Linked DNA regions of Homo sapiens: regions 1, 2, 3, 5 and 6 are each linked to region 4. The links come from fine-mapping of genetic effects on gene expression. A gene starts in region 4. Each other region holds a variant in brackets. All regions are shown on one strand. Distances are from middle to middle.

Region 1 (4,086 bases), 260 kb before region 4:
TTAATTTATTGGAATATCCTAAGAGCTTTCCTCCAAAAGCTTCAAGGTACTTGTCTGATTTTTTTTTTTTAAGACACGACTGTTTTTTACAATAGCAAATTAAAGGAAAAGTATAAGGCCGGGTGTGGTGTCTTACGTCTGTAATCCCAGCACTTTGAGAGGCTGAGGCTGGCCAGTTGCTTGAGCTCAGGAGTTTGAGACTAGCCTGGGCAACATGGCAAAACCCCATCTCAGAAGGAAAAAAAAAAAGGAAAAATATAAAGGCAAAAACAAGAAAACTAGACCAAGGAAAATGCAAATAACAATTCAGACATGCCTTAACCTTAACTTTAAGAAAATCTGCGACCAGGCATGGTGGCTCATGCCTGTAATCCCAGTACTTTGGGAGGCCGAGGTGGGTGGATCACGAAGTCAGGAGTTCAAGACCAGCCTGACCAAGATGGTGAAACCCCATCTCTACTAAAAATACAAAAATTAGCCGGTTGTGGTGGCGGGCTTCTGTAATCCCAGCTACTCGAGAGGCTGGGGCAGATAATTGCTTGAACCCAGGAGGCGGAGGTTACAGTGAGCCGAGATCACGCCACTGCACTCCAGCCTGGGCGACAGAGCAAGACTCTGTCTCACAAAAAAAGAAAATCTGATATTATTAAACTGAGGAATGACTAGTTGAATTAACAGGTTTGTCCAAACAGTTCCTGTAAATATTGAGTTCTATCCAATGCATAGAAATATAAATTATTATTAATATTTAGGTTGTTAGTTTTCAAAAAAAACCAAAGGGTTGGGAAACAGAACAAAAGCTAATTGGATATTAACATCTCTGAAACATTTAAATGAACAAAAAAAAATTCACTTCCAAGTTTCACATCACAAAATTAAATCATCTAATTAAACATTCCTTCAGCATAACACTAAGCACTGCCTTAAGTACCTGAGTTGACAGAGTGGGGATTACGATACAATCTCCCTAGGTTGAGGTCCTCCCCAGGGACCTCAGGGAGGAAGAGTGGACATTTGAACACTAGCCAAAGTAGGTCTAGCAGCCACATGCAGTTGCAGGGGGTGGAGAGTTCAGTGCCACTGTGCATTTGGGCGCCTGGAAATATTCTACGAACCACACTGTGAAAAATGCTCCAAGAGAGGTGCGGATTTGTTGCATAGGGTGTGAAAAAGGGAGCATGGTAGGGTTGGGAAAGTTCCAGAAAGAAAGTGGCCAGCAGCGAATCTTCACAGATGACTAGCAGAAGCTTGGGTTGTAAGGCAGTCCTAGTGAAGGAGCCACCCAATGGGAACACGCAGGAAGTGTCAAGAGGCATACAGAAAAAGTGTGGTGGAACGGGATGGTAAGGTAGAGTAAGGGTAGGTCACGGGTAGCTTTACGTGAGGTTCAGCAGTGGAGTTTGAACATGTTTGGTAGAGTGTGTATGAGGTTTTGTTCTAAGCGTCCTGCATGTATTAACTCATTTAATCCTCAAGCAGCCTGTGTGAAAGAGGTTACAGTGGGCAATAGATAGGTAACATGAATAGATCTGTTTTAAGCAGACGTTCTTGACAGTAGGTGGACTGAAGTGGGAAAAATTGTGTGCAGGGAGAGCCCTTGGGAGACTGTATTGGTGATCCAGGTGTTATGAGTAATAATGGCATGATC[C/T]GGAGTTACAATTTTGGGAACTGGAAAGGAAGACTAAAAACTAGGGACATTTTTGGAATTAGAATTAATAGGGCCTTGTGAACTAGGAAGCCCTTTTGAGATATCTTAAAAACATGGTGTGAAGTGCTAAACTGACTGGGCATAGGGAATTAGAAAAAGAAAGAAGTCAGTGATCCCCAGGGTTTCAAAACTAGGAAGATGATGATATTGTTAACCAAGGTGGGGAATAAGGGAAAAAGAGCAAGGTCAAATGGAGAAACAGTTCTGTTTAGACTTCTGAACTTGAGATTCTGTCAGGAGATCCTTGGGAAGTTTAACAGGTAGTAGAAATGTGAGACCAGGAGAGAGAAGAGAGTTCTTTAAATTGAGGTATGGGTTGAAGCACAGTGATGCATGAGATCACCGAGGGTGAGAAGCAGCCAGGACAGAAATGGAGAGCTGATTGGACGGGGTCTGCAGAGGAGCAGTCACATGTAGGGAGTGCAGGGTCACTGACGCCCAGACTAGACAGCAGCCATGGGATCACATGGGGCCAAGGTGACCCCATATGCAGAGCCCTGGTGAGCAGATGGTTTAGGGTGATCGATCACCCTCGTGTGTGAAGTGGAGGTGCAGGTGGCATTAGGAATGAGGATGTGACACTGTAAAGTTAGGAGATGATTTCTTCCCCCCCCCCCCTTTTTTTTTTTTGAGACCAGGGTCTTGCTCTGTCACCCAGGCTGGAATGCAGTGGCACAGTCAAAGCTTACTGCAGCCTCAACTTATTGGGCTCACATGAGCCTCCCACCTCACCCTCCTGAGTAGCTGGGACTACAGGTGTGTGCCACCACGCCCAGCTAATTTTTTATTTTTTGTGGAGACAAGGTCTTGCTTTGTTGCCCTGGCTGTTCTCAAACTCCTGGGCTCAAGCAGTCCTCCTGCCCTGGCCTCTCAAAGTGCTGGGATTACAGGCATGAGCCATTGTGCCCAGTGGAGATGATTTCTCCCGTAAGTTTTTTAGTTAAGGAAAGGAGAGTGCTCTGCTCACTTGAATTTTGTGGGCCTTTTTTTGTTACGATACTCAAGGATAAACCATATTTAGTTCCTGCTATGTTTAGGTTATTAAAATAACCCATTTCTTCTTCATGTGTTTAGTAGGAGAAGACATGGAATGAAGATAGAATTAATACAATTGTGGTTTCTTTTCTAGGGTTTATCTCCTTTACCTGGGCCATTTCCGAGATCTCTTTCATTTCCTGCTCCCATTGCCTGCAATCTGCAGAACATTTAAATAAAGGGCTCTGATTTCCTCAGTTAGTAATTATTGGTAAAGGAATTTGAGTTCCTTTTAATATAAATAGAGGGATAACTTTCCTGAATAATCACTAATATATGGTGTCCCAAAAGTCTTAGTGTAGTTTTAAGCTATAATTTCTGAAGTATATATGCTACAAACTTAACAAAAAATTCTTTTGAAAGTTTAATTATTTAAATATGTTATATACATATTTATCTTGGTAATTTTGAATAATATACCTTTAATTTTGATATTTTGTTTCAGTCCCTTTGAAGATGGTAAACATTTAGCAGTAGGAGCCAGGCTACTCTATTCCTCTTTTTGTAAGGCACCAAGAACTTACAAAAATCAAATAATAGGAAATGTTTCCATTTCTCTAATGACTGGCTTTTGTGATTTGCGGTCTCCCCACAGAGTATCTGGACCTTCTTCATTGAGAACAATGTTTCCCATAGTACACTGGTGGCATTGTTCTATCATTTTGTTCAAATAGTTCATAAGAAGAATGTCAGTGTACAGTATCGAGAATATGGCCTTCATGCCGCTGGGCTTTACTTTTTGCTACTAGAAGTACCAGGTATGTAGACCTGATATGATAGGATAAATCTTCTGTCATTTTTTTCTTTCTACAGTTTTCAATTCTTATACTTTGTTTCTTGTTTCTTCACTTATAAATGGGGCAGTGCTAACCCATGGCAGAGAGTTGTTGCGAGGAGCAAGTCTCTAAAGTACATGGCATGTTATAGGTCTTGGAAAACCTTCCCCCTTTTTTTTTTCATCCGAAGTTATGCTATCTATAAACTAATAAAAATAGTCTGAGAAGGAGTGCAAGAGTTCCACGCCCACCCTCCACCACGGCCGTCTAAAATTCTGATATTGCCCTTTCTTCTCATGATTCCTTGTCTAGACTGAGAAATACTGCTGTGGGGAGTCATTGCTTTTTACCTCTCCGATGTTGGTATTGAAAAATAGATTAAAACCATTCTAATCAAGAAAGCAGGAAAGCAGCTAGTAATACTTGAAGGAGAGCACTGACCAGGAGTCTGTTTTCGAGCACTGTTTTACTTGATTGTCAGAGCACTGAGGAGGCTGTTCCTCCTATGACAGTGAAATCCATTCTCTTCCCTACTCCAAACACAGGGTGAGAGAGAGTGGAACATAG
Region 2 (4,086 bases), 79 kb before region 4:
TTGTAAATCAATTAAAGCTGTGAACCCTTTTGCAGAAAAATGTTCAGAACACGGAAACATTCACAAACCTGCCTGCCGTTTGAGGGACTGTGGCTTTAGAAGTCCTGTCTTAAGTGTGGGAGGCAGCTGCCGCCTGTGCTGACGGCTCGGCCACCGCGTTTCCCAGCAAGAGCTTTGCAGCTGAATGTCAATCACAGTGCTCCACCACTGTGGATTAGAGGGAGCCGGCCACTGTTGCAAATCTGAACTAAAAACAATGTTTTAATTCTACCAAACTGTAGACAAACCCATTTGCAAAACTCCTAGCAAGTTATCATCTTCGTGTGGTCCCAGGTGAGCTCTGACCTTGGCCAAGTCCCTTCCTTGCTTTGGGTCTCAGTTTCCGGTTTGTGAAATGAGGGGGCGGAGGGAGCAGCGCCGAGGCCCCTTCCGGCTCTGCAGTGCCTCGAATTCTAGGCTGCTGGTGCGTCTTTTCCTGAGGGGAAACGGGGAGAAAGTGCAGCCTCAGGTGCTGGCCTTTCCCGGGAAGAGCTCCCCGCCGCCTTCCGCCGGCCCCACGCCTCCGCCCAGCTCCCGCCCACCGCCCTCCCCTCCGCGGCGCAGGAGGCCGGCCTGGCTCCAGGATGAAGCGGAGGTTGCCGCGGCGCTGGCCGGTTACGGCTTCATAAATCCCAGTTCCACGGGGGAGGGCCCAGCACGGCCCAGCACCCAGACGCTGAGGAGAAGTGGGGCTTTTCCGTGCGAGAGTGTGGGCGTGCCGGGCGCACGTCCGGGAAGGGGTGCTGAGGGCCGCCCTGCTCGGAGGAGACCCGCCCCTGCACCGCCCCTCCTCCCGCTCCCCTCCCGGGCCCTCTGGTTGGGAGAGTGGAGAAGAGTCGAGAAGAGTGGAGAAGAGTCGAGAAGAGTGGAGAAGAGTCGAGAAGAGTCGAGAAGAGTGGACAAGGCGAACCGTCTGCAGCGAGGCGGGGCTGGGGGGCGCGGGGAGGACGGGGTTCAGGCCGGTGTCGCTCTCAAGGGGCAGCCCTGGTGTCACCCCCACCCCCTCCCACGCTGAAGCCTTCCGGCCGAGCTGTGGCATCCACGCAAATGGGTGGGCCCAGGATTGGGTTTTCGGCTTGGCGGTGGGGGTGGGGGCGGGGGCGCGCGGCTAGAGACTGCAGGCTCGGAAGGATCAGATCTGTTAACTCCGAGTCCCTCCCTTGAAATCCGTGCCACCTTTCCCTTCCTCTTTCCCAGGGCCGCCTCGGCACCTCCAGGCCAGAATTTAAATGTTATCAGCGGCAATTGATCTGCTCGGGACTGAGGTTTCGGGTCCTCTGCGGAATTGGGAGGAGCGTGGATGGTGAAGGAGCTGCTGCACTGTGGCACGGGCTTGGCCGGGGCTGCCTGGCTCTGAGCAGGCTCGTGGGACGGCCCTGTAAGGACCCCACTGCAAGAAGGGCACAGAAGCACCTGAGTTGGCGTCTCAGCAGGGACCCCCCCAGGAAATGCCCTTCTACAGCTGGTACTCAAGCTCTTTACACACTTAGCCATCGCTATACACAGTCCACGCTTGTGCACCCACACCCACAAGCTTATGCTCACGTGCACTTTTTTTTTTTTTTGAGACGGAGTTTC[G/T]CTCTTGTCGCCCAGGCTGGAGTGCAATGGCGCCATCTCAGCTCACTGCAACCTCCGCCTCCTGGGTTCAAGAGATTCTCCTCCCTCAGCCTCTAGAGTAACTGGGATTACAGGCGCGCGCCACCACACCTGGCTAATTTTTGTATTTTTAGTAGAGATGGAGGTTTGCCACGTTGGCCGGCTGGTCTCAAACTCCTGACCTCAAGTGACCCGCCCGCCTTGGCTTCCCAAAGTGCTGGGGTTACAGGCATGAGCCACCGAGCCCGGCCTCACAGGCGGATTCTTGAATCCGTGTGTATAATTCTTCTCTTACAGTCATCCAGCAAACATGTACAGACCCTGCTCACGTTTCCACATAACCATCCTCGTCTTCCTTTTCTATCCTTCGGGTCCGCGCATTTGCCATCCATACATGTTACTGGATACAGTTAGCTGGAACATATGAAATGCCCTTTCCTAGCACACACAATGGATCTACGTATGTACAGGCCTAAAAACAGAATACACATCCTACATGACATGTACACATGTGCACACAGAAACAACAGCCTTCACGCCGTCTGCATATGCGGGCCATGCCCAGGTCCCAGGCACACAGGCCAGGCGACAGTCCACTTCATCACTCAATTGCCTGCTCTCTTTTCCTCACTCCTTCCTCAAGCAGCTGTCCGTGGGGGAGAGCCTCTGCTCCTAGCTATCGCAGTGTCTCTTCATTCTGAGTTGAGCATGGGAAACTGTGTGATGTAGGGAAGGATGGTGATACCAGGCCTCTGGGAGCCTGGGCTTCATAACACGCTATTTTGCTCATTTATTTTTGTATACCTTCACATGCCTTGTGAGGCCTTCCAGAAATAGATGTTCAAATCCTACCTCAGTTTCCTCATCCATAAAATGGATTAAAATACTATCTGCCTTATCTCCATTATGGCAATGTTGTGGGAATACAATTCAACATCTAAGAAAGCAGACTGCAAAGTGTAATATGCATGATGCTATAGGCTATCAGGGTGTGTCAAGAGCTGGCAAAGTCGGGGCAGCATTTTCCTGCTGTGAATCAGGCCTGTGCCGGTCGGTCTTGCTGAGGCCCTAGCCCAGGGCTTCATGAATCGCAGTAGAAATCTCACCCGCTCCTTTCCTCCGCCTGTGTCACCCTCATCCTCACTTTTGTCTGTCCCAGACATATGGCTACAGAGCCGACGGCTTGGGGAGGGCTAAGAGGGCCTTGGCACTGAGCGGGGCATCTGCCCTGGGCACGTGGGCACACAGAGGCTTGGCTCCCAGGCTTTTCTGAGGGCTTGCACCTGGGAAAGCTCCTCTCTGCTCCTGGGCACTGGGGCTGTGCCAAGCAGCTGAGTCCAAACAAGAGGCCCTGTGGTGTGGTGAGTTTCCCCGACCAGCCGGGGCTGCTTCCTGCACCTGTGTTACCCTGGGTAGGCATAGGGCTGTCAGAGGAAACCCCCAGTAGCACCTACACATCTATGATGGGCAGAGGAAGACCACATTTTTATCTAGTCCAGAGACCTCAATGCTTCAAGCCATGGTGGCTGGTAGGGGTTAGGGTAGCCCTGAAGGAGGGGAGGCAGGAAGCTGGGGCCAATGCCAGCATCAGAGGGAGGCCAGCAGTTGGCACAGCGCTGGCTTATGTCCAGCAGGAGCATGTGAGAGGTGAAGGCACCATTCTGCAGGAGGGCTGGCTGGCCTTGGGGCTTAGAACAGGCTCCAATTCAGTGCAGAGCCTTTATTCCTTTAGCTCAGCACGAACAAACCCAGGGTGGTGCTTATCTCCCTCAGTTTTATTCCTCCCCGGAGTGGTATTCAGAGAAGAAATTCCACTGGGACACCTGGTACTTGGTACTGCAGATGAGCATTTCTGGACATGCTAGGTGGAGGGGAGAGGCTGAGGCTGGGGTCCCAGGACCCTGGGTTCCCGCAAAACCTCAGGGCTCCCTGAAGTGAACGTAGGAACAAGCATGGATGGGTGGAAGAGGGCCTCTGTGAAGCCCATCCCCGGCCAGGCCCTGCTCTCTGCAGAGGTGATCTGGGTGACCCCCTCCCTCCTCCAGCTCTGCAGCAGCTCCCGGTTTCCAGCAGGGCTGGCCAGGAAGCCGTGGCCAAGAGGGAGCTGGGTAGACAGGGCCCAGAAGTCAGAGCAGTCAGGGGTGGAGCGTGCAAACTCTGCAAAGCTCTAGCCTGGCTCCACCCCTTGCCTGCCTGAAGCTCAAAAGGATGACATCACCCAGACTGAGGGCTCCAGCCTAGATGGGCTTCATTAGCAGGGAAAGCCGGCACCTGCAGGGCTCAAGGACTTCCCGGGTTTGCGGGAGGCGGTCCTCTGCTCCTCTTGTGAATCCGGTTCAGCTTTAGGGGTCTCTGCTCTGAGTCTTGGAGACAGCACGTGGCTATTCGGGCTTCCAAGTCTGGGGCTATGTTTCTTCTACCAGAGACCAATCTCTCGGGCACCAGCATAAG
Region 3 (4,086 bases), 67 kb before region 4:
TAAATGAGTTGAAACGGTTTGCGAAGTGCATAGGACAGTATCTACCACTAGATAAAAAGTGGAATTAGAATAGCATTCAGCCATGAGTCTGCCTAATTCTAAAGCTCATACAGAGAGGACTTTTGTGGGGGAGGGCTTCTGACCCTAATGCCAGAGCTGGGTTATGGCATAATAGTCACGCATTGCCACTTACTAATTGAGTGTGGGTGGGCTACGTGCATGTTTCAGGCCTCAGCTTTCTTACCTCTAGGGAACACCATGTTCTATAGAGGATGATTGTATAGTGAGCACTATTGATTACGTAAAGATCAAATGAAACAACGTCGGGAAAGTTCTTGGTAAACTGTGCCATATACTACAGCAATGCACTCAGTGCCCTGGCACTGAGGCCCGGCTCGTGCCCCAAGAATCGGGAAAGTTCTTGGTAAACTGTGCCATATACTACAGCAATGCACTCAGTACCCTGGCACTGAGGCCCGGCTCGTGCCCCACGGGGCTGTGTGCCCTTCCCTTGGCTGGCAGCTCAGGGCAGGGAGCCCAGTGTGATACCCGCTGAGGAGGGAGATGGCATAATGCCCTTGGGTGCCCATGTGCCCGGGTCAGCAGCCAAGAGCAGGATGCTTAGGAATTCCACCGAGGCAGCTGGGCCCCGGCTTCATTGGCAGGGGCAGAAGGGAGGCAGGTGTGAGGGAGGCCAGAGCGGGGCTCGAGGAAAAGAGGCTGGGTGGGCCATGGAACACTTTCCAAGGGGTGTCACAGAGCCACGCCAAGTGTGTGTCACCCTTCTCTATGAGGATGTGTGATTAGTGGAAATGAGAACAAGCTTTATTAGTCACTGCTGAGGAGAAACACCACGAAGAATTATCCAACCTGCTAATGGAAGGGTGCACAGGCCTCTGTAGGCTGCTGGAAGGGAGGAGTTTCATGTCCTCTTTTCTTTTTGCCCCCAGAAGACTCATGTTGCTGAGAGCAGATGGTGAGGGGGAAGAGGGTGGGTCCTCATCCTTGAGTCATTTGCTGCCGGGGTACCTTTTTGGGGCTCTGGGAAGTACAGCAAGCATGTTGGACGGATAGGCAGCCTGTTTGCAGGGGGGCGAGGGTCGGCCCGAGGAGGCGCCGCTGGGAATGACTCGTGCCCAGTCAGAAGCTGTAATTGGAGGTGATTAATCTGTGGAGGACAGCGTGGGGAGTCAGCGCTGACTCAGGACCCAGGCGGGCCGCTCCCCTCTCCCACTTCACCTGCCTCAGGCGGCAGAGGGAGGCTGCTTGGAAAGGCTAATGATTCAGAGGCCCTTAAAACAGAAGGATGAGCAGCTGAGGCTCCAGATCAAAGATGTTTTAACCCTTTAATGGTCCAGTGGTAATGTGAAGAGGTTGAGGGTCTTCCCTCGGAGTCGGGGCCCTGGACACGCGAAGCACTTATTTTATTTATTTATTTTTTTGAGACGAAGACTCGCTCTGTAGCCCAGGCTGGAGTGCAGTGGTGCAATCTCGGTTCACTGCAACTTCTGCCTCCCAGGTTCAAGCAATTCTCATGCCTTAGCCTCCTGAGTAGCTAGGACTAGAGGCGTGCACCACCACGCCCAGCTAATTTTTGTATTTTTAGTAGAGACGGGATTTTGCCATGTTGGCCAGGCTGGTCTCGAACCCCTGACCTCAGGGACCCCCCTGCCTCGGCGTCCCAAAGTGCTGAGATTACAGGTGTGAGTAACTGCGCCCAGCCCCACTCAAAGCACTTCCGATGCACCCCATCAGAAGT[G/T]GGGGTCAGGAGCTCCTCCACTGCAAGATACTAAGCTAAGGCTTTCTAGTTAAGGGGACCTAGATTTCAGCCCCAAGTAGGCACTCCCCAGCTCTGGCAAGCGGCTCAACCTCTCCAAGTCTGTACAATGAGGACAAAACTACCTACTTCATGGGGACTCAAAGAGATAGTGTTTGTGAAATGTTAGCAGAGCCGGGACTAGACCTGGGATGGGAGCAACCAACGCCTCATCCTGGGAGAGGCCACACTGAGCATGTGTTTTAAAAGAGGCTGCATTCACATTTTTCACCTCTCTTCTATATTCCAAAGATAAGCAAGAAGACCTGGGTCAGAAGAGCCAGCGTGAGTCACGCACAGCTGTCACCAGGGACAGTAAGATGGGTGAAATGAAGATGCAAATCACCAAATATTATTTTACCTATACACACACACACACACACACACACACACACACACACACACACACACACATACAGGTAGTCTAAAATTGTACACAATATACACAGTAAATATTTAATTAAAGAGGCTGTTTTCCTATTGGTAACTGACCTTACACCTTGGGGGAAGGTGCCCAGGTACACATACCTTGAAAACGCCCAATGGCTTTTGAGGAGACCTTGGTGGCAGTACTTTGTTTTGAGTGCAGGATCTTAGCAGAAGTCAGGACGCAGTGGACTTTTAGGGGAGCTGAGTCTGGAATAGTAAAGATGCTCCGGTCCAGCTGCTTTTGTGTGGTCAATCTGAGGGAGGGGGGGGTGGACTGTGTCATGGGGTTGGGGCTAGATCTTGGATGGGTTCATCCAACCCAACACCATGCATGTGCCTTAAAAGAAGTTCTAATTCTTTTTCAACTTTTGTGTACCTCAAAGGAGAAGTAAGAACACTTGACCAGTAAGAAGAGTGAGGATTAGATTTTGCACAGTTGCCAGAATGCAAAATCGAGATGATGGATATGAAATGCAAATGGGCAAAGTTAGGCATGTTCCTTCTTTATCCTCAAGGACGCTGAGCCAGAGCCGCAGCGCGCTCCCAGACAGAGCACAGCTCCCAGGTTCCCCAGCTCCTGTGAGGACCCACAGCTGGGGTGGCCCACACAGAGATTGGGATTCTGCCAACCTCACCCAGAGATGCTCCCTCTCCATTCTCGTGTTCTTGTTTGTTTTCTCCTGCCTGGTACCGTGCCTAACCACATGACCCTTCCAGGGACTCTTGCCGCAAGCTGGCCTATTCACCAGGTGCAAACAATTTATGCAGCACTTCCTACCCGTTCTCCAGTGTTTGTGGTGAAATTGGGAAATGCAAAGGTTATTTTTCTCAGGAGCATCCTGCAGCAGGTCTGGGATTCAGGCCTGTCAAAATTCTCCCCTGCAGATACATCTGGAACATTCCATTAGCAGCAGGAACTCTGACAATCAGGATGGTTTAACTCTCAGAGTGGGGAGCCAGGTAACCAAGACCTTTACCCTGGAGATCATTAGAAATAAAACTGCAATTTTCACATCTCCCTAGAGGTATGTTCCTCCCTGGTGGGAGGGGCTGAAGGCCTATAAGCACCCATCTCAGCCCCAAGAAGCCCAGTTCTTCCAATGTCCTTCAGCCTCTACCAGCTGCAGAACAATAAACAAACTCTGTCCTGTGAAGCTTCCTGCACAGTTAGCATTTGTGGGCTGCAGCCTCTTGCCATTTGATGTGTGGACAACAAAAATCAGCATATAGATTGAGCTGCCGCTATACGGAGGGCAAAACGAAAACGGAGAAGACAGTGTTTCGTTTTTTATTTATTTTTCTTTTTTGAGGAGGAGTTTTGCTCTTGTTGCCAAGGCTGGAGTTTAATGGTGCAATCTCGGCTCACTGCAACCTCCGCCTTGCGGGTTCAAGCCATTCTCCTGGCTTAGGCTCCTGAGTAGTTGGGATTATAAGCATGCACCACCACACCCGGCTAATTTTGTATTTTTAGTAGAGATGGGGTTTCTCCATGTTGGTCAGGCTGGTCTCAAACTCCTGACCTCAGGCGATCTGCCCACCTCGGCCTCCCAAAGTGCTGGGATTACAGGCGTGAGCCACCACGCCCGGCCAAGACAATGTTTTAGAGTCCAGTTGGCTTCTCTTAGGGAGAAGATCACTCTTCAGAGGAGGGACTAGCCGGCTGCCTCCGCCACTTAGTGAAGGGGAGGGAAGAGTCTTACTAGTAGGTTTGGTCACAAAATTCCCCTTCCCCACCACCCCCAACACACACGCAGCGGGAGAAAGGAAAGGGGAAGGAAAGATCCAGGTGGCCTCGGCTGCTGGCCTCGTTCTGTTTCCTCCCTGGACCCACTGGTTAGCAC
Region 4 (4,086 bases):
TGTGGATCCGGCACTTTTCTCTAGGCCACAGTTAGCTGCTTAGAGGTTGTGGGAGGAGAAGGATCCTGTTATGACCAATTCTGCAAATGGATTCCAATATGTCTTTACAGTCCCGGGGCCCTGGGAAAGTGTGTAAGTGTGTGTGTATGTATATGTGTGTGTGTGTGTTGGGGGTGGAGTTATTCTGGGTCATGCCACCTGGAAATCACTGCATCAATGAGACCTGGAGATCACTGCATCAATGAGACCTGGAGCAGCTCACTTCATTGTCCCCAGAAAGGCATCTTTGCCCAAGAAGAGAACCAAAATCATGGCTCAGGGAGAGATGGCCCCAAGTTATGCATCTTGAGTGTGTTTGCACAGGTGGAGGGGTGGGTAGGGTAGAAGGTTATTCAACAGTCCTGGTTCTCTGGATCTATCCAGGCCCTCGACCTTTATCCATGTGCTCACTGACTGCTCTGTTGGGGGCCTCTTTCTGCCTCCCAGCTGGCGGTGAGCTAAGAGGCTTCCGGTGTCAGGGAATGCTCCACCTCCGGTGTTCAAGGCCACTTTTTGTGCATGTGTGTGTACCTGTGTGCACGCTTTCCCAGAAGCAAGTCTCCTTCTTGTTGTTTTGGGAGCTTCATGTCCTGGAGCCAGGGCTTTGTGGCTAACGAGTGCTTTGAGAGGATGAAATTCCTGAGCTCTCGCTCGCTGACCCTCTGCCTTCCTTCCTTGGCCAACAGCCCATCCCAGGGAGCGGTGTGATTCTTACCACTGCCTTCACTCCTTGAAAGAACAAACATCTTCACTGCAGCCTCTGAGCGCTGGTGTGAGGTGATTGTTTGTAGTAGATGTTTCCATGACACTCATTTATTTCTTCTGCAAATACAACTGTATTGGGGGAGGGGAAGCAGACAGGCTAGGGTAGGGAGACTGGAACATACGAAGACCTTCCAGTTTCCTATTTACATTCCTCTGTAGGATGAGAAGCTCCTTCCCTTTCCCTGGGTCTCCTCCATCCCAGACTCCTAAAGCTTCCCCCAAACCCATCTTGGTTTCATGCGGCCGAGTCGGGGCTGGGCTCCGAGTAAGGTGGAGAGGGGAGGAACCATGTGCGTGAGGAAGCAGCCTTTATCAGGAGAAGTGGGAAAAAGACCCAACTTTGACTGCTTGGAGTCGGGATTCAGTAATGATGAGCAGCAGTGACCAGCACTGGGGGTGGAGTGTGTGTGCACGAGTGTTCCTGAGGGGTCTGTGGCACTTCGCAGCTGAGCCAATGACTCACTCTAAATCTTAGCGACTTTGAGAGGTCATTTTAGTCATCCCCCGGTCTGCATCACGTTTGGAGGGGGTGGTGCGCTGCTCTGGGGACGTGTCTGGGTGCGGAGGGAGACGGGGTGGGGAGGCGGCGCGTGACCTCTTTGAAAAGATCTCCGGCGAAGGACGTTCCCCGGCTCTCCCGGGCCGCCGGCTCCTGGGTTTCCCCATCATAGAATCAGCATGGTCCTCTCGGGAACTGCTTTTTGCCGGATGGAAACCGGATGTTGGGTTCCATGAGTGGGCGGGGGCTCCACTTCCCTCAGACCTGTCCGGGGTAATTGAGACCCGCCAGGGTCCCGTTAGAAGCTACCATTTCCCTCACCAGAAACTTGCCACGCAGTGTGAGCCGAGAGAGAAGCGGGCAGAGACGCTATACCACCTTCTCCCCGGCAATGCGCATGATTCTGCGGCTCTGTGCTCGCCACACTTCAACGCACCTTGAAATGGGCTCGCCTCCTTCGCGCCGCGACGGGCGGAAGGCTGAGCCAATCGGACCCCCGGCTTGCGGGCGGCGCCCAATAGGCGGGCGGCGGGGGCGGTTCCGGAGGCCCGGCCCGGCTAGGCTTCACCGTGGACCTGGCTGCGCTCCGCCCGGGCGAGTAGTGCAGGTGCCGCTGCGCCGGGGCCGGGGAGGCGCGCGCCGAGCCGAGCGGAGCCTAGGAGGGATGGAGAGCTGGCCACCCGGGCTGCAGGAGCACCGGCGCGGGGCGTAGGCGGCGCGAGGCGGGCGCGAGGCGGGCGCTCGGGCGCGAGGCGCGTGCGGGCGCGGGAGCACTTTGCGATAGGATGAGGCTCCGGGCTGGCGCGGTAGTACTATGATTTGGTATGTGGCCACTTTCATAGCAAGTGTGATCGGCACCCGAGGGCTTGCGGCTGAAGGTGAGTTGAAGTGCGGCGTCCCTCCCCTGCCCCTCCCGGCGCCCTCGGCCCCTCGCGCCCGGCCCCTCGGTTTCCCGGCTCCTTGGCCCCCCGGTTCCCCAGCTCCCCGGCGCGCCTTCCCGCGGGTGAGGCTTGGGCTCCGACGCGGGCCAGGCGGCCCGGGAGCATTGCCGGGGAGGGCCTGGGGGCCGTGGGCTGGAGGGGCGGGCGGGAAGGGGCCAGAGCCCACGGGCTGCCGGGCACTCGGGGAAAGGACGCAGTGGAACCTGGGTCGACTTCGCCCACCACGGGCCCCACGGTGCACACCGGCGCGCCTAGCCCGTCGCCTCCTGCCCGGCGGCCGCCTCCCAGAGCTGCGGGAAACTCTGGCTGCGGGAGTTTGCGGTCTCCGGGCAGGCTGCAGCACGCTAGAGCCCCGCGCCGCGAGGAGCGCCTGCAGGGAGGCGCGACCCGGAGGATCCCTGGGACTGGCGGCACCCGCGTCTAAGGCCCCGGGTTCGCGCGGCCCTGCGGGCGTCCATCGCTCCGCTCGCGCCCCTCCTGCCCACACATCTTGGCAGCTGGAGGTCGGATCCCCCTAGCAGGGGCGCCCGGTGAGAGGAGGATTGATGAGGCCAGCTTCGAGGTGTGTCCGCTTTTGGCTGGACCCCGCCGGCCCCCGCGCCTCTCAGCCGCACCTGGGCCCCGGCCAGGCAAAAGTTCCCCGGGAGCGCGCCGCAGCCGCGCGGGCCCCACGCCGCCCTCCCCAGGCTGCGAGGCAGAGCTGGCTGGGGGCGGCGGCGGGGGAGGGGAGGGGCGGGGAAGGGGGGGTCCCCACGCTGTGAATCCGAGCGGAGGGGGGATTTTCTCTTTCCGCTTTCCTGGGTCTGAGCTGGGGGAGACGCAAGGGGGGAGCCACCGAGTTGGGTGATGCGTGCGTGAGCGCGCGGGCTTTTGCTTTGGAGATGGGCAGAGCGACCTACAAGCCTCTGGGTGGCACCCCCGGCTCTCGGCCCTTGTATGGAAGTGGGAGCGGAGCCTGGAGGGTGCCAGGACTGTGAGCTCAGGGCTGTCAGCGCGCAGACACGACCCGGCTGCGGGCAAGTTCACCAAGCCGGAGGAGATGGCGGCGGGAGAGAACCCGCTGTGGGTGGGAGTCAGCAGGCAGGACTCGCCGACAGAGAACCCTCTCCCAGCGGCATGGGGCGCCGGGTGGGCTGGAGGCGCCTCTCACGGGGTCCCCTCGTCACTCGTCTGTGCAGGGGGGCGTGCTTCAGGAAACTTTCCGGAATGGAATGAATATGTCGCCTCTGCTTCTGAGGGGGGTGGTGGTGTCTGAAAACAGAACGAGCAGAGGGCGAAGCGAAGGGTGATTTTGTTAACTGACATGTTGGTCCGGACGGTTTTAAAACTCTTCATTTGTCAGGTGGGAACACTGAGGCAAGGGTGATGGCGGAAGCTTACGGAACGGGGGGTGGATGTGAGGTGCATCGGGCTGCGCTTGACAGTCTGCCTGTAGCCTCATCCTCTCCCCCATTTCCTTGCCGTCTTCCAATGCCCGCATCCTCCTCCCCTCCCGTTTTTGGTATGTTCCTGCTATGGGACTGTCCCTGAAAGCACAAAAGGATGAGCTGGGATCTTTGAATAGAAAAGAGACGCTGAAGGAAGGCTCTGAAATAGCCTCCGAACCTAAGTCAGGGTGGGCAATGGACTTCTTTGCAAGTTTCAGCCCAGAATAAAGGAATGTGAGTTTATACTGCAGCAACACGCAGAATCGCAAGATAGAAGGAAGGGCTTCCCAAAATTGAAGGCTGCCTGGCATGAAGGTTATGCCCTCTTTCAGGGTGCAGAGGGGTCCTTCTGTCTGGAATGGCTGGACATGTACCCCTGTCTGGAAGCAGAGGGTGACCTTGCTGGTCTTGGGGT
Region 5 (4,086 bases), 28 kb after region 4:
TGAGGGCCCAGCGAGCAGTTCTATTCTGGACCTGCCCTGACCAGGCTAGATGCCGAGCAGTGAGCTGACCCTGAAGAGCGGCAGGCACTCGGGAGGAGGGCAGCGTGGGCGGGCCGGGGTCTCAGGCGCGTCCTCCCCATCTGCTTCGGGCTTCTCTCCTAACCCCCATTTCTGTTCCCACCCTCTTCCCTGCCCCTTGTTCACCAAGGTAGGGAAGCCCAGCAGAAGCAAGCACAGTGCCCTGCCCAGTGGGAGCCTGCAGTTCCGTGCCCTGAGTAAGGAGGACCACGGGGAGTGGGAATGTGTCGCCACCAACGTGGTCACGAGCATCACTGCCAGCACCCACCTCACCGTCATCGGTACGTGGCCGGCAAGGCTGGGCCGGGCGGCGGGGACAGAGCAGGCTGGCTGGGGGCGGGGTGCTGGACGCTGGGAGCGTCCCCTGGTGGCCGCTGCACTCTGCGGGCTCCCTTCCTAAGTCAGTGCAGCCCTGAACTCCGCGTCCAGCACCGGCAGCCTTTGCCCCCGTGGGCTCTGTCGGGGAAGGGCAGCGTGGCTCCTGTCCTCAGGGAGGTCTTTCTGGGGACAGGCCTGATGTCCACAGCAGCCCACCTGAGGGAAAGAGGCGGCTGTGTGGCTGGCAGGGACTGCAGAGCCTTGAGTTTAAGGGCCTTAGGGAGAGCTGGAGGGCTGGAATGAGGGAGACGGGGACTGTGCAGCATCTCAGATGAGGGCAGAGCTGAGACCTGCAGGCCAGGCCTGGCGTGCGGAGGCTGGGCAGGAGGAAGTTTCTGGGGTTCTGTGTCTGGGCGTTCCCGTTTCCGATTGCCCGAAGCGCGTGTCCCAGGACCTTCGCCTGGGCCCTCTCAGCCTGTCCTTCTGGGTCCTGACGGCTATAATCACAGTCACAGCCAATGCTTTTGGAGCCTTTACCACCAGTTTTAGGTTCTGTTCCAAGTGGTCTGCACAGCTCGTCCTTCACAACTCGGGAGGTGCGAGCTGGGGTTTCTCTAGTGTAGGTTCCTCGAAGCAGAGGTTGCCGTGGCCCGAATGCTTTCTCCGGCGTCACATCGCTAAGAAGTAGTGGGTCCGGGAATCGAAGCCAGGATGGGGCTCCTAACTGCTGTGCTGTGCTGCCCACATGCCAGCATTGGGGTGGGACGGAGTTGTCTTCTGAGGCCAGAGAACCTTACGGGAGGGGCTCTGTGGCTGTGCCTGCCGCCTTAGGAGAGAGTGTTTCTGTGCTCACCAGAGAAGCACAGGATTTGGGCCAGGACGAGGAGGGCTCTGGTTTCTGTTGGACCCATTCCTGATGCTATGTGATCTCCTAGTTGGACTAGACCGCACAGTGGGACAGGCTTCCTGCTCCAACCCCACTAACAAGCAGGGTCAGGGGAGTCGGCGCCTGAGAGCATCCCCGTCGCCCCCATCCCTTCACTTGCAGTATTGTGCTCCGCTGCCATGCGCTTCAGCCTCTCAGGTTCCCCACAGCCAGACGGTGGGCACCCAGCCACGTGGCTGAGTTCTTTTCAGTCTGAGAGGTCTCCACTTGATCTCCAGGCACCAGCCCCCATGCCCCGGGCAGTGTCCGGGTCCAGGTCTCCATGACAACTGCCAACGTGTCCTGGGAACCAGGCTATGATGGAGGCTACGAGCAGACATTCTCAGTTTGGTACGGACCTCTGTGAGTCACCCCGGCATGCTTTGCTCTCTGCTTCTCCCCTCCCCGGTCTTCCTGCAGGCTACCCCGGGTGGGGGGAGGTAGGAGGAGGCTGCAGTTCCTGGCCTGCCAGCCCTGCACAGACTGAGGTGGGTTGAGACAGTGATGAGGTCCTTGTGGGTGACGGGAGGGGTCTGAAGGGACTCTGGGCATGGCTGTGTCCCTGTGGCCTGAGGGGTCTGGGCCTCTCTGTGCCCTCTCCCTGCTCACGTGCTGCCTCGTTTTGCGTCCTGCTTCATCCTCTGGATTCCTCTGGAGCCTGGAAGAGACTCCTGCCCTTCAAGGGCTTTGTGAAATTGCCCAGCCTTAAGTGTAGAGTCTAGTTTTTAGACTAATTTTTTTTGTATTTTTGTATTTGTAATTTTTGTGGGTACATGGTACATACGTTTGTAGGTATGGGGTACGTGAGATATTTTGATATAGGCATGCAGTGTGTAATAATCGCATCAGGGTAAAGGGGTATCCACCCCTCAAACATTTGTCCTTTGTGTTCCAACAATCCAATTATACTCATAGTG[G/A]TTTAAGAATGTATGATACATTATTGTTGCTTGTAATCCTGTTGTGCTGGCAAACACCAGGTCTTACTGGTTCTTTCTCACTATGATTTGTACGTGTTCACCCTCCCCACCTCCTGTAGTCTAGTTTTTATTCTGTCTTTTCCCCAGAGGCCACAGAAACTGGTGTGGAGAGGTGATGCTCACTTCCCAGCCTTGGGGTCAGCCCCTGCATTTTCTCTCTAGGACCATGTGTTTCTCGATTGTTTTCATTCCTCTGTTGTCAGTTTAGCCAGATGCAGTCATATGAGGTCTTTGCGCAAACCTTAGGGTAGATACAGATCTCAAAAATGTGCCAAGCGGGGTGAGGGCAGGAGGCACAGGAAGGGAGGAGAAGGAAGCCTAGCTGACTCCTCCCACCCCCAAGGGCTGCCCCTCCCTACACTCCTGTTTGAGTAAGAGTGGCAGCCACCTGCCCTGCCCCGGGGGTGACAACCTTGAGCTGGGAGGGCGAGCCCCTCAGTGCCTTCTTTTAGACCTGTCTCACCTGCAGGTGTCTCTCTAGCCAGGCTCAACTCGAGGAGGGGGAGCTCGAGGGGAGGGGGAAAAGGCAGGCACCTGGGGCAGCTCAGGGGGTTCAGGGAGACCCCTTTATCCACTTCTCAGCAGCGAGGGAAGTTGAGAGGGGCACCCGCTCTGTCTCCCATCATGGTGGTTCGGTGGCTGCTTCCCGGGCGGAGTGTCCTGGGTGTCTTGATTCTGATTGGAGAACTGCACCTGGATGATGGGAGTTGCCGCAGCTCACCTCCCGTCCCCTTACTCTGTTCCTCCCGCAGCAGCGTGGGGGCCCTAACCAGCCTGCCCGGTGGCTGCTGGGAGACCGGTGCTGCTCAGCGCCTAGGTGTCCAGGGTGGGACATTTGGTGTGGTCAAGCTGTCTTTGGAGATGCCTGGGTGGGAGGTCTGGGCATACGATGGGGGGCTCAGGTGTAGATTGGGGCTCCCCTGCTGCTTGCGGTGCTGCTTCACGCTGCTGCTCCACGCTGCTGCTCATCTGCACTGCTTTTCCACACGTGGCTCCTCGCTGCTTTGTTGCCTGGGCCAGGGAAGGGCGGGGCCGAGGTTGGGGAGGTCTCCTTTCTTTCTGCCTGCCTCTAACTCTGTGCACTGACTCCGACGTTTGGCGCCGGCTTCTTTTTGTACTGCTTTCCGCTGCCTCATCTCACCCTCCTGGGCGTGCACGGTAGTGAGCCGGGACCCGGGAGTGGATCCTGGAGGGCACCCACCAGGTTACAGCTCAGGGCTGCAAGGAGAGGGCCAGTCCCACAGGACCATGTCTCCTCCCTGTGGTGACGTGGCAGCACTGCACCCATAGCCCTCCGGCTTTGCTGGGAGTTGGGAGCCTGTGGAACAAGGGAACACCCTCGGCCCGTCTTCCTACTCTCCATGCATAGCGTGACCTTCTTCCAACCCTTACGGCCTTAGGGATCCTGGCCCCACTGTGGGGAAACCCCTGGTCATTATGGTCTTATACCCTGGACATCTCAGGTGACTCCAGTCTGATTGGATGAATGAGCCCTGTGGGTTACCCGAGGCCCTACTTCAGCTGTCCCTGGGGGTGTGTGCAGCCAGGTCCTGGGCTCCTTCCCTCATCCTGCCACTGTTGAGCCGCTTATCCCCATACCCCAGAGCCTTACTCTCCCAAGGCAGAGCTTGTTCTTAGGGTTGTGACCAGGGTGGGATTCTCCCACAATGCAGCTGGTAATCCATCTGACCAGTGTCCTGAGCACGACTTGCACCTAAAGGCCCCTTTGGTAGAAAAGATGCCAGCTGTGGTTGGTGACCCAGCATCAGGAGGATTGGCACAGCCAAA
Region 6 (4,086 bases), 34 kb after region 4:
AAGAGTGTTTACACCACAGCAATTGGCCAGTGCTACCATCGCTTAGCATTAGACACTTAGCAGTCCTCCTGTGCTTTGGGTGCCCTGCCCTTTGCAAGGCTGTGTGCAGGATGAGTGTGTGAGGGGACAGTGGTCATCTCAGGTCCCTCGGCTGACTGGGTATTGTCCCTGGGGCTGCAGGACACGTGGTATGAGTTCCGGGTTCTGGCCGTCATGCAGGATCTGATCAGCGAGCCCAGCAACATCGCCGGCGTCTCCAGCACAGGTATTTTGGGTTGAGGGTGCTCTTGCAACTATAGGGACATAAGCCCCAGAGCTGCATGGGGGTCATTTTGTGAAATGGCTACTCCACGAGGAGAAGCTGGATTGGAAACTAAGGCAGTGCCTGGTTGCAGCTGCGTGAGTCATAGCCTTTCTTAAGCCCACCAGACCCATATTTCCATGATGCATGCTATTTCGTGAAGCTCAGAAGCTGAGTTTCTGACACTTGTATAAGACAGCCACAGAAAGAAATTCAACTAATCTTCTCATTATAGTAGTCAAAAAGGACTTGATTGAAGTGCTATTTGCTGTACATTTTCAGTTTCCTCTTGTCGGGGAGGGGCTGTGAATCGGAGGAAACAACAGGTCAACCATGTTTATCAAATGCTTGTGATAGACTTCTTTATAATTATGTGGGTTTTATTTGGAAAATTGTTGTTTGGTGTTTTCCTCCCTTCCTTCCTCTCTCTAGATTTTTAAGGCTAAATAAAGCCAATTCCCTAGCATTTTCTCCATTTATCTTTCTTTCTCTTGGCCCTGGTCCCATTTCTACACATCTTCTCTCCAGCTATAGTTCCTGAGACATAGCAGGTTCCTCCGCCAGTGAAGGGGTGTCCTTGGTATGGGAAAAGGCTCTTGCTTATAAGCAAGTGATGGCATCATTTCCTTGGGCACCGCTCACCCAGAGTCCCCTGGGACCAGGTGACAGTGACCTCGTCTGAGGAGCTCATGCAGCAGGACTTGTAGAGTTGGGGAAGTGCTGGTGTGGGCACACTGCAGGGAGCACGAGAGCAGGGGCAGGTGTGGAGTGCAATTTCTGCTTTATACATTAGGCATCAATGGGCTTTAAAAAAAAAAGGTTGTGTCCTACAGGTAGCAGAACCCACAGTCTTTCTTGACTTCTCTGTGGGGAATAGACTCAGAGTTGGAGGAACAGGGATGAGAGCTTGCATCCAAGGCTGGAGCTGAAGAAGGGGTGTTGTGTGGGCCCACCCCTGACCATTCTGTGCTCAGTAGCTCTATGCCAGCTCCTGGCAGGAAATGTGCCTCGTCAGACACTTCCACACAGGGGAAGGAGGAGGCAGCAGCCTCAGCATTCCCTGTATTAGGTCCCCCATTTCCAAAGGCTGTAGCTTTCATTTTCCCCTCAGACAATCAGCATCATCTGGATTATTTTTATCCATTATTATTATCGATGCAGCAATGAATTCTGGCCAAATACGTTACAATCTATCGATTCTGCCTTTGCTGAACCTAAGCAGTGGCACTTACCGACACAACTTTCCTATGAGTATAAGATGGTAGGCTGGTGTCTAGTCTTGGCTCGGTCATAACGAGCTCTGTAGACTTGGGCAGGAAAGGAGGACGTTCAGCTCCTTATGGTGAAACGAGAGATTTGGCTCCATCTCTGCTGTCCCTGCCAGCTCTAGGGTACTTCCGTACCTGAGATGACCAGGATGCGAATCTTCAGGACGTTGCATGCCTGTACTAGAAGGGGAGAGGATCTGAATTTTGTAGTAATAATCCCTCTTCCTGCAGTCGTATTTTATCCTCAAGTTGCCTTCACACCTGGGCTCTCCTTTTGTAGAGACACTGGTGTGAGGCAGGAAATCCCAGACTGGGAGCAGGCAGCTGCGTTCTGGTTTGGGCACTGATGGCAATATCCACGTAAGCGGGTCTCTCTAACCCAGTGGATCAGAGCTCTTTCATTTAGAGAATGAGAACAGTATGTGTGCTCTGTGTAGCTCATGGGGTTAACATGAGAAGAGCTGATAACGTGCATGAAGGTGCTTTGCAGAAGGCAAAACCCTAGATAAGTATAGATTACTCTTGAAGTCATTATCCCCATGGGGACAGGCATAGATGTTTTCTTCTTTACACCCTTTGGAGAGATTGACTTCTGTAGACTCTCCTCTCTTCTTCCTCTTCGTGACGCCATCCAAACCTCTTCAGTGCTAGAGTTCAGCTTGGAGCCCGAGCCT[T/C]GACACTGTCTGTTCTACAAAGGCAGGGTGAAACACTTGGGGACTGAAGGTCGGAGCAGGTGAGGTCCCGGGGAAGGATGGGCTCATGAGTGCTCCCCACCCTCCCTGCAGACATCTTCCCGCAGCCGGACCTGACCGAGGATGGGCTGGCGCGGCCTGTGCTGGCGGGAATCGTAGCTACCATCTGCTTCTTGGCAGCTGCCATCCTGTTCAGCACCCTGGCTGCCTGCTTTGTCAACAAGCAGCGCAAGCGTAAGCTCAAGCGCAAAAAAGGTGGGTGTCTGTCCCCTTCCCTTGCTCTCCCTGGCCCGGTTTCAAATGCCCCCCATCAAGAGAGGTGGACCATTTTTAGCATGGCCCCCCTTGGAAATAGGGACATTGAGATCTTGTGGGTAGAGCTGCCAGTGAGACTTGATTTGAAAGTGGGGGTAAGAAGCAGGGGTGGTGGGGAGAGGCTGCTGGGGCCCAAGCTAGCATGAAGGCAGGGGCCAAAGATGCCCACTGTGAGCAGCTCCTTCCCTGTGCGGTGGTGCTCCGGCTCTGTCAGCCTCTGCAGATGCGCGTGCTGCGTGGTTGCTGGCTTGGCCTCAGCAGCCTCTCCCCTTCTCTTTCCTTCCAGACCCTCCACTCTCCATCACCCACTGCAGGAAGAGCCTGGAGTCTCCGTAAGTGTCTCAGATCCTGGGAGAATTGTGCTGTTCATGGCAGGGGGCGCATAGGTAGACCGCTCGCCTTACCCAGCCCCATGTTAGTGTTTCTAAGCCATTTCTTCTTGATTGACCTGTGTGTTAATTGTACTTGCCCAGCCCCATCTCAGTGTTTCTAAGCCATTTCTTCTTGATTGACCTGTGTGTTAATTGTAAGTTGTCCACGCTGGTAGAGGGAGTGGCAGTGCAGATGATCCAAATTAGCCAGTAATCAGTTTCTCTTCAGCCTTGGAATGTATTTCTTTAGTGTTTTCCCACCCTAGCAGATTTGCCTCCTTAATATGTGTTGCTTAAGTTGATATTAAAGTGAGCTTGCTTGTCTTGAAAAGAGGGGAATGAAGCTGGAGGTGTGCTTAGAGCACAGCAGAGAGGGGGCAGGCCAGCACAAAAGTGAAGAGGCGGGTGTTCACTGGAAAGACGGATGATGGGGGGGGCCGGGCGCGGCGGCTCACACCTGTAATCCTGGCACTTTGGGAGGCTGAGGCAGGAGGATTGCTTGAGGCCAGGAGTTCAAGACCAGTCTGGGCAACATAGCAAGACCCCGTCTTTAAAAAAAAAAGGAGGATTCACGTCCAGACGGTGGAGAGTTGGCCAAAGCATTTCACACCACGATACACAGCCAGTTTTCTTGAGCGTGAGGATCCTGGGTGCTGGGTGGTTGCCGAGAGAGGGAAAGGAAGTCCTGGCCAGCACACTGCCCCACCTCATCCCCTCCCGGCTCTTGCTCCTCCTTGCAGCTTGTCCTCTGGCAAGGTGAGCCCCGAGAGCATCCGCACGCTCCGAGCGCCGTCAGAATCCTCCGACGACCAGGGCCAGCCCGCGGCCAAGAGGATGCTGAGCCCCACCCGTGAGAAGGAGCTGTCGCTGTACAAGAAGACCAAGCGGGCCATCAGCAGCAAGAAGTACAGCGTGGCCAAGGCAGAGGCCGAGGCAGAGGCCACCACGCCCATCGAGCTCATCAGCAGAGGCCCTGACGGCCGCTTCGTGATGGACCCTGCCGAGATGGAGCCCTCGCTGAAGAGCAGGCGCATCGAGGGCTTCCCCTTCGCCGAGGAGACGGACATGTACCCCGAGTTCCGCCAGTCGGACGAGGAGAACGAGGACCCACTGGTGCCCACATCTGTGGCCGCCCTGAA

Direction of the effects. Positions count from the first base shown, and alleles are read on the strand shown. Sizes are in standard deviations (SD) of each study's normalised expression. Not every link is listed here.
In carriers of allele T in region 1, the expression in sun-exposed skin of the gene that starts at base 1,904 in region 4 tends to be lower than with C alone (small effect, 0.27 SD a copy in GTEx).

Evidence for each region.
Region 1: its variant is fine-mapped to the expression of IGSF9B in sun-exposed skin (GTEx, PIP above 0.99).
Region 2: its variant is fine-mapped to the expression of IGSF9B in whole blood (INTERVAL, PIP above 0.99).
Region 3: its variant is fine-mapped to the expression of IGSF9B in whole blood (INTERVAL, PIP 0.97).
Region 5: its variant is fine-mapped to the expression of IGSF9B in sun-exposed skin (GTEx, PIP above 0.99).
Region 6: its variant is fine-mapped to the expression of IGSF9B in whole blood (TOPMed, PIP above 0.99).

What each region holds. Positions count from the first base shown.
Region 1 is chr11:134,216,351-134,220,436 of GRCh38, reverse strand. NCAPD3 (non-SMC condensin II complex subunit D3) reads left to right here. Exons shown (of 35, transcript NM_015261.3): 3 at 3,339-3,501. Among named protein-coding and RNA genes, the nearest start is that of NCAPD3, 5.6 kb to the left of the region's middle. RefSeq lists a silencer at 3,916-4,086. The variant C/T (reference allele first, on the strand shown) is at 1,649.
Region 2 is chr11:134,033,901-134,037,986 of GRCh38, reverse strand. LINC02731 (long intergenic non-protein coding RNA 2731) reads right to left here. Exons shown (of 3, transcript NR_027276.1): 2 at 346-475. Among named protein-coding and RNA genes, the nearest start is that of LINC02731, 3.7 kb to the right of the region's middle. RefSeq lists silencers at 434-723, 804-1,013 and an enhancer at 158-1,129. The variant G/T (reference allele first, on the strand shown) is at 1,618.
Region 3 is chr11:134,021,707-134,025,792 of GRCh38, reverse strand. All of the region lies in intron 1 of LINC02730 (long intergenic non-protein coding RNA 2730), which reads right to left. Among named protein-coding and RNA genes, the nearest start is that of LINC02731, 8.5 kb to the left of the region's middle. RefSeq lists an enhancer at 855-1,657. The variant G/T (reference allele first, on the strand shown) is at 1,760.
Region 4 is chr11:133,954,786-133,958,871 of GRCh38, reverse strand. IGSF9B (immunoglobulin superfamily member 9B) reads left to right here and starts at 1,904. Exons shown (of 20, transcript NM_001277285.4): 1 at 1,904-2,181. The coding sequence starts at 2,118. RefSeq lists a silencer at 1,726-2,075.
Region 5 is chr11:133,927,257-133,931,342 of GRCh38, reverse strand. It overlaps IGSF9B (immunoglobulin superfamily member 9B), which reads left to right. Exons shown (of 20, transcript NM_001277285.4): 11 at 209-359; 12 at 1,561-1,672. Among named protein-coding and RNA genes, the nearest start is that of IGSF9B, 28 kb to the left of the region's middle. RefSeq lists enhancers at 235-529, 315-609, 177-849 and a silencer at 3,650-3,739. The variant G/A (reference allele first, on the strand shown) is at 2,239.
Region 6 is chr11:133,920,999-133,925,084 of GRCh38, reverse strand. It overlaps IGSF9B (immunoglobulin superfamily member 9B), which reads left to right. Exons shown (of 20, transcript NM_001277285.4): 15 at 181-265; 16 at 2,355-2,516; 17 at 2,863-2,908; 18 at 3,688-4,086. Among named protein-coding and RNA genes, the nearest start is that of MIR4697, 24 kb to the right of the region's middle. The variant T/C (reference allele first, on the strand shown) is at 2,244.